Linked DNA regions of Homo sapiens: region 1 is reported to be linked to region 2. The links are microRNA targets in miRTarBase. Many come from high-throughput screens and were not tested one by one. Region 2 holds a microRNA gene; the other region holds the end of a gene's coding sequence.

The links. The annotated mature microRNA hsa-miR-4423-5p reads AGUUGCCUUUUUGUUCCCAUGC and lies in region 2 at 1,060-1,081, opposite strand. An mRNA with a match to its seed (bases 2 to 7 or 8) in the 3' UTR can be bound and repressed. Matches are read on the target gene's strand: a 7mer-m8 pairs with bases 2 to 8, a 7mer-A1 pairs with bases 2 to 7 and ends in A, and an 8mer does both.
Region 1: miRTarBase lists GNL3 as a target of hsa-miR-4423-5p. Seed matches in the 3' UTR shown: 7mer-m8 at 3,075-3,081.

Annotation. Positions count from the first base shown.
Region 1 is chr3:52,693,424-52,697,479 of GRCh38, reverse strand. GNL3 (G protein nucleolar 3) reads right to left here. Exons shown (of 15, transcript NM_014366.5): 12 at 3,936-4,056; 13 at 3,673-3,848; 14 at 3,377-3,443; 15 at 2,983-3,287. The coding sequence ends at 3,205. GLT8D1 (glycosyltransferase 8 domain containing 1) reads left to right here. Exons shown (of 10, transcript NM_018446.4): 5 at 821-938; 6 at 1,162-1,246; 7 at 1,440-1,552; 8 at 1,893-2,059; 9 at 2,178-2,290; 10 at 2,445-2,994. The coding sequence ends at 2,635. Among named protein-coding and RNA genes, the nearest start is that of SNORD69, 2.7 kb to the right of the region's middle.
Region 2 is chr1:85,130,823-85,134,886 of GRCh38, reverse strand. It overlaps MIR4423 (microRNA 4423), which reads right to left and starts at 1,093; the gene lies at 1,014-1,093. It overlaps DNAI3 (dynein axonemal intermediate chain 3), which reads right to left. Exons shown (of 23, transcript NM_145172.5): 23 at 1,749-2,032. The coding sequence ends at 1,889.

The sequences.
Region 1 (4,056 bases), not on the chromosome of region 2:
CCCCACCTGATGGTGTTTTGATAATAATACTTTCTCAGTGAAGGGAGCAGTAAATGTTGATTTACAAGTCACAAGTTCCTTATTTCATGGACATGCTCGGAGCAGTTCTGGTCTAGAGTGGGAAGGGACTTAGCAACAATGGCAAGGTAGTGTTGTGATGCTGATCACAGATCCTGATCCAAATCCTGGCCCAGAGTGATCTGGGGAAACTTGGATAGTCTAATCCATTTTGAAAATGAATAAGACTTATAAAACTTACTCCAAATTTGTTGGTCTAACAAATTAACCAGTTGTCAAATTTCTGAAACATTTTGGTCCTTGTGGCCCTCTGCATGGTTCATATTTAGTTTTTAAAGCTGTAAATTCTGAACGCATTTAAAATACAGAAACAGAAGCTGTATAAAAATAGACTACAGAAATAACACTAAGTAGCCACAAAACACTGATTTGAAACTGACCTAGAAAAAATGTGCAGTACTCCTTTAGCAAACAGTTTTTTCTTACAGGTAGTGCCTCAGACTTGAGTGGTGGAATTAGGGTCACCACAGTTAAGAGTTGGATAGTCCAGGTGGTGATGAAATGTTCTTAATTCTATAGTTTTTCTAGAGTAGTTTTAGTGTTAGAAGATAATTACCATACAATCTTAATTCAGGGAGGGACTTTGGTGGGAATTACCCTCACTTCAGACGAGGAAACCAAAGCTCAGAGATAAAAGGAGCTTGAAAACACCTATTTGGTCCATAGGGTTTCTTTTGCATTATTCCCTCATTGGTTTGGAGACATTATTTGAAACTAAAATGTAGTGTTTTATCTTCATCAGGTCCTGGCTCAACAGTGATTCCCTGAAAAGCATCAGATACAAAATTGTCAATTTTGACCCTAAACTTTTGGAAGGAAAAGTAAAGGAGGATCCTGACCAGGGGGAATCCATGAAACCTGTGAGTTCCATGCATCCTTCTTTGCACTTGGCAGTATTAGGAAATAATGGAATACCTGGGTATCTGTGGGTATAGTGCAAGTAGTTTCCTGGGGACCAAGCCTGGGTGGTTCTAAGAGTCCTTTCTTCTCCTGAATGGGTACTGAAAGCATCCTAGGAGTTTCTGTGTAAATAAAAGCACAGCTAGTGCGGTATCCTATGCCAATTATTCTTTCCTTTTCCAGTTAACCTTTGCAAGGTTCTACTTGCCAATTCTGGTTCCCAGCGCAAAGAAGGCCATATACATGGATGATGATGTAATTGTGCAAGGTATCAAAAATGTCACCATGAGTGCTGTTCTCCACCCAGATTGGGTACAATTGCTAAATAAAACAATGGGCTACAGTGGGCTGTAGTGGTTTATTTATGGTCTTCTATAAAAGGTCACCATAGGGAGAAGTGGGAGTAACAGGGAACTCTCAAGGCAACGGAAATGTAAATCTTAACATCTTGTCTATTTCAGGTGATATTCTTGCCCTTTACAATACAGCACTGAAGCCAGGACATGCAGCTGCATTTTCAGAAGATTGTGATTCAGCCTCTACTAAAGTTGTCATCCGTGGAGCAGGAAACCAGGTAAATTGCTTACCAAACACCCCTCTTCCTACAATATTGTTTAATGGGAAGAGGTTGCAAATTCAGGGAACTCTTTTGCTGCAATTTACACTCCCCAATCATTTCATCCCAAAACTCAAGCCTGCTTTTCTGTAGACTTCTTCATGGACTTGACAGCCTAATTGTTCTTGAACATCTGGTTTATTATGTCAACATCTAGGTTCCTATTCTAACTTGGAATTTCAAATATTTATTTTCTAATCTGAAGAAGTCAGTTTAACAGCTCTTCTCTCTACTGGCTATAAAATTGTATCTATTTTGTTTGAAGCAGTAAGTACATATATCCTATTTGTGTTTTTAGTACAATTACATTGGCTATCTTGACTATAAAAAGGAAAGAATTCGTAAGCTTTCCATGAAAGCCAGCACTTGCTCATTTAATCCTGGAGTTTTTGTTGCAAACCTGACGGAATGGAAACGACAGAATATAACTAACCAACTGGAAAAATGGATGAAACTCAATGTAGAGTAAGTATGTAACTGGCCTAGCTGTGAAAAACTGTTGTATTTCAATTCCTAGAGTCTTGACTAACAGGAGTTAGTCAGTACTTTTCACTAACAAACATTTGTTTTCTGTCCCACCAAGAGAGGGACTGTATAGCAGAACCCTGGCTGGTAGCATCACAACACCTCCTCTGCTTATCGTATTTTATCAACAGCACTCTACCATCGATCCTATGTGGAATGTCCGCCACCTTGGTAAGTAGAATTAACCAGTGGCATAAGCTAGTAAAGAATTGGTATCTAAAGAACTATCCTCAGGGATGGGGTATATTCTTTGTTTCCCTTAAGTAAGTTTTCTGCACAATTTCACATGGCGCAACGATGTGGCTATTTTTGTCTCAAATGTAAGGTTCCAGTGCTGGAAAACGATATTCACCTCAGTTTGTAAAGGCTGCCAAGTTACTCCATTGGAATGGACATTTGAAGCCATGGGGAAGGACTGCTTCATATACTGATGTTTGGGAAAAATGGTATATTCCAGACCCAACAGGCAAATTCAACCTAATCCGAAGATATACCGAGATCTCAAACATAAAGTGAAACAGAATTTGAACTGTAAGCAAGCATTTCTCAGGAAGTCCTGGAAGATAGCATGCGTGGGAAGTAACAGTTGCTAGGCTTCAATGCCTATCGGTAGCAAGCCATGGAAAAAGATGTGTCAGCTAGGTAAAGATGACAAACTGCCCTGTCTGGCAGTCAGCTTCCCAGACAGACTATAGACTATAAATATGTCTCCATCTGCCTTACCAAGTGTTTTCTTACTACAATGCTGAATGACTGGAAAGAAGAACTGATATGGCTAGTTCAGCTAGCTGGTACAGATAATTCAAAACTGCTGTTGGTTTTAATTTTGTAACCTGTGGCCTGATCTGTAAATAAAACTTACATTTTTCAATAGGTATCTTCTTTTTTTATTCCAGATAACTACTTCCACTCACAATGAGATGAATTGTCTTTTTACAGAATTTAGGGATTCCAAGTTGCCTGGTTTTAATATAATACATATTCACAAAATTTACACAGCTCATGCATACCATAACTTATACAGAGAACAGTTTAGCAGTCTGCTTAAAATGTTAAAAAAAAAATCATAAAAAGCCATTGTTCTGTTACACATAATCTGTACTGAAGTCATAAGCATCATCCTCTTCAATGATTTTATCCAAGATAAAAGACCTTGTAGACTGTTCACCTATATTGCAGGAAAATAAAGAGATTTTCAAAAAGTAAAAGTGATTCTATACCATGCTGCTTCGTTAGAACCCCTTTTGCCTGCCTCACCTGCTGTAGTCTCCTCAGACAGTGCCTCCCCTGTCTCTTCTGCAGCAAACATGCCTGAGCTGTTTTCCTGTGTGACAAAGAAAAATAGTGCTGGATTAGTAGCCCTTGTCTGCTCATTTAATCCAAGTAGTTATGTACCTGAAAAATTAACTCTTTGGAGGTACATATAACGGGATGTGCAAAATTAAGGCTAATGGATCACAAGCCTCAAATATTTCCTATCTTCAGTTCCTTCCATTATGTATTATAATGCTAGAAAACTCACTTCAGTTTTAACTCATGGAGGACACACTTACATCAACTTCTTCATCAACAGTTTCCTGGTCACTGTCTTTGTCATCCTCCCTCTCCTCCTGCTTCCTTTCTTTCCGTTTTGGCAATTCTTCATGTATGTCCTTTTCTTCTATTATTCCATTTGTCAGACCGGAAGACTGGAAAAGGATGCTATTGGCCAAATGAGGGCCCTTGATGGCTGGGAAAGAAAGCAAGCCCATGTAAACAGGTAAGAGCTCCACTGGCCTGTCAGCTGATGAAGACAGCAGCGACACACAATTCTCACCTCTTATGCTCTGTGCATTGTTCTTTTCCAGTTCTTCCAGATTGAAGCCGCTTTTCATGTCTACCACAATACTCTCATTAAAATATGGAGGAGGAGTCCAAGATGTAGGGGGATGGCAATA
Region 2 (4,064 bases):
AACATAGAAACAGGGAGAACAGGAGGCTGCTGCAAAATCCAAGCTGATGATGATGCAGCTTGGACCATGGTGGTAGCAGTGAGGGAGAAGAGAAGCGATCAGGTTTCACATGCATACTGAACGTGTAGTCAACAGGACTTGCTGACAGATTGGATGTGGATTGTGAAAGAAAGGAGATGAAGGATGACCTTAAGGCTTTTGCCCCAAGCAGCATCATGGCTGGGAGGACTGCTGGAGGAATGGTTTTTGAAGGGAAACATCAAGCACTCAATTTTGGACATGTTTAAGTTTGAGATGCCTATTAAACATCCAAGTGGAGATACAAAAGGTCAAATAGATACACATCTCTTGATTTTAGAGAGAAGGCCAGGTCAGGGACAGAGGTAGTATCTAAAGCCTTGAGAGTGGATGCATGCACCTAGAAAGTGAGTGCAGAAAAAAGAAAGAATAAAAGAAGTTCAAGTGTAAGGATGAGCCCTGGGATATTTCAATCATGATGACAATAATATGTGCCAGGCACAGGCCCCTTATCTGCAGGGGCTCATTTGCCCCTTACATAAATGCTGCAAGTTAAGTTCTCTCAACCTGACTTGATGGAAGGGGAATCTGTTTCACAGAGCTGGGTCATCTGTTCAAGGGCACACAGGTGGTTAAGAGCTAAAATCTATCCGACAAAGTTTTCTTTCCTCTAGCAATCTAACTTATAAACCTTGGTATTATCCTTTGTCTTCCCTTCCCCATCCAACCAGCCTTTGATTTCTATCTTCACATTAAGCTTTAGTACAGGGCATCCTAATCCTTTGCCCTGAACAATTCCTCCTGCCTCCTAATAGGATTTCTTGCCATGAGACTCTCCCCTGCTCTAGTTCATTCCTTGTTTCCTAAAAATAAAGCTGATTGGGTCAACTTCCTGTTTAGACCTTCCATTCATTCCCCATAAATTCTAATCCAGCTCCTTAGCTTGGTAAACAGGAGCCTTCACAATCTGGCTCCAAGCTCTTTTGTGTCTCAGTTTCACATACTGTTGTTGCTTTTTGGTGCCTATGCTAGGCTTAAACAGCATGGGAACAAAAAGGCAACTGCAGTACATGATGTCAGGCACCTGATGGTGTGAGCTGTGTCTTGTTCCACATCTCAGGGGAAAGCTTTCTGCTTGTCACCATGAAGTACCATGTTTGGTGTAGTATTGTTTTACACGCCCTTCATCACATTACAGGAATTCTTTCTGTAGATGCCAAGAATGTATCATTATTATCATGAATTGATGTCAACTTTTATGAAATGTTTTTCTGCATCGACTTGGCATCATAATTTCTCTCTTTTGATTAATCACTGATTTATTTTCTACTCTTAAATTAACCTTATCTTCCTTGGATAAACCCAACTTTGTCTTCATGTGTTAACCTCTTTAAAATATATATATATATATATTTCTGGATTTGATTTGCTAATATTTTGTTTAGCACATGGCCCTACAGTTTGTACAGTGGCCAAGGGGAAGCACTTTTTTTGGAAAGGTGGCCAAAAGCAAGCTGATAAGTAGGAGCAGTTTGATTTCCCCTTCTGCCTGGAATGAGGGCCTCTGTGTGGACAGCAAGGATTGGGATGGAAGGGACATCCAAAGTTCTCTATTATTATAGGAAAATACAAATTTTGTTATTGAAAACATTCATTAAAAAAGAACACTTTCATATTCAGTACAAAATTTGGTACATACATGGTACAAAAACTGAAATAGATCTCATTGCTAAAATTCAAAAGTTTTAATAGCAGGGAAATAAAAGTCTATAAATGAGCCTATATATATATATGTTCAGCATGCCAGTTCACCTGACATAAAAATAAATAGAGGGAAGAAGTCCCCAAAACACCCCTTCAGGAAGCTTTTTTACATCACCTCCATGTATGACCCCTTCTCTGTGACTTTGATTAGGCCAAGGTTGATAAGAACAGTCTTTTCCAGTTCCAGATAACTCTCATAGTCCATTTTTAATTCAGCCTGCATTTGTTCTTTTGACTTCTGATATGTTTTCTGGGGGGGGAAGAAAAACAAGACATCCCTATAAAACACTGATATCTAAAAATACCAAAGGATGAGAAGGGGCTGTTTGTGAATAGTTGACCTGGCTGCTGTTTTCTGGAAAGGGCTGGATGGAGGGCAGGAAGGCAGGAGGGCAGGTGGGCAGGAGGCAGTCAGATGTGCTGGGAAAGGAGGGAGTGGGGGGAAACATGGTCCCCAACCACTGTCTCTCAAAAAAAAGTCCCTTTTTCCGGCCTTCTTCCCTATAACTCTTGTTTCCCTTATGTAGACTGGAGGGTGACTAATAGCCTAGAGGTTGCAGAATTCTTTTGAAATCCCCCTCTTCTGAGTCCATATGGATGGCATAGCTTGTGGATCACACGGCAATGACTACTGTCCCAGGCTGAGTCTCCAGCTGAAATTCTGGTTAGGAAAATTCCCATTTCATATGCAACTAGAGCAGTGATTATTATTGTCCATTGAGGAGTGAGCTGTTTCCAGATTTTATGTTTGCAAAGAGACAGGTGCATGATTTTCCTGAAATCTGTGTTGAACTGTACAGCCTCAACCTGGCACCTGGTGAGCACTCACACAGGCCAGCCTTGCTGGACGAACATGTGAACACTTTCTATGTGCCAGTTATTGGCTAAGTGCTGTAAATATTTTAACTCATTTAAGCTCCATTGCAATCTTCTGAGGTTGTTACTGTTGCCATTTCCCCCTTTATCAGCCGTTGCTTAGAAGGAGACATTTCTGACTAACATTAGTTGTTTTTCCTTAGTGACTTTTTTTATGTTCTCAATGTAACAGAGGAACCCTTTCAAATTCATTCACATACCCACAATCTATTCATAGTTGCAGAGAAAATTTGAGAAGTGGTGGCTTTACTTAAAAGAGGGCACCATATCAAATGGAAATAAAGTTACAAGAAGTTGGGAACGTTTTGGAAATTGAAAAGTATAATACAATTTAAGATATTATTATTATAATATTCAGGTGTTTAAAAAGTATTTCACATGCAAATTATTTTTGGATTATCCACAATTCTACTCGCTCCCACTGATGTAGATAATTAGGAGCTGTTGCTATGGTATTTAAACACTCATAATAATCGTGGATAATTGCTGGGGAAGGGGAAGGGTGGCAGATTCTCTCCCACAATAGAATCTCAACAAATCAACATTTGTTAAGTGCAAAAGAACAAAACTAAGATCAATTTGTTTGTAGCAGTGGAATGCAATGAAAGTTTAATTAATTGGCATTCTTTTACACTTTGTCACCAAACATGTTTTGAAATGAGATCCTCTGCTTTTATTGCACTAATTAGTATTTATCAATGAGTGATAATGTTAATTTATTTGCTAATGCAGCACATTACAATATTTCCACATGCTAATGCTTTATTTTTTTTTTTTTTTTTTTGAGATGGAGTTTCGCTCTTGTTGCCCAGGATGGAGTGCAATGGCACAATCTCGGCTCACCATAACCTCCGCCTCCCAGGTTCAAGTGATTCTCCTGCCTCAGCCTCCCGAGTAGCTGGGATTACAGGTATGTGCCACCATGCCCGGCTTATTTTGTATTTTTAGTAGAGACAGGGTTTCTCCATGTGGGTCAAGCTGGTCTCGAACTCCTGACCTCGTGATCTGCCTGCCTCAGCCTCTCAAAGTGCTGGGATTACAGGTGTGAGCCACGGCGCCCAGTGCCACATGCTAATGCTTTTGAGACTGAAGGCCTCATGTGAGTAACTGTGTTTGAGGATGTATGTATTTGGCTATACGGAACCTACAGATGAGATCAATGATGAAATGCTGGTAACAAAAGAGCAAAGGAGAGAGGGAGCAAGAGGGAAACAGAAATTGAGACTGAGGTGATCTCAAGTGAGAAAGAGAGAAAAGCCTAATTCACAAAGTATTTAGAAGCCCAAAATTCCAGTGGGCAAGGGAAGACCAGCAGAGTCACAGAATTCGTATCAAACAGGGAGAAGCTGAGAAAGGGAGCATGGGGTGCTTTAGAGCTTAGGTTCTTTTTTGGCAGAGTTTAAGAT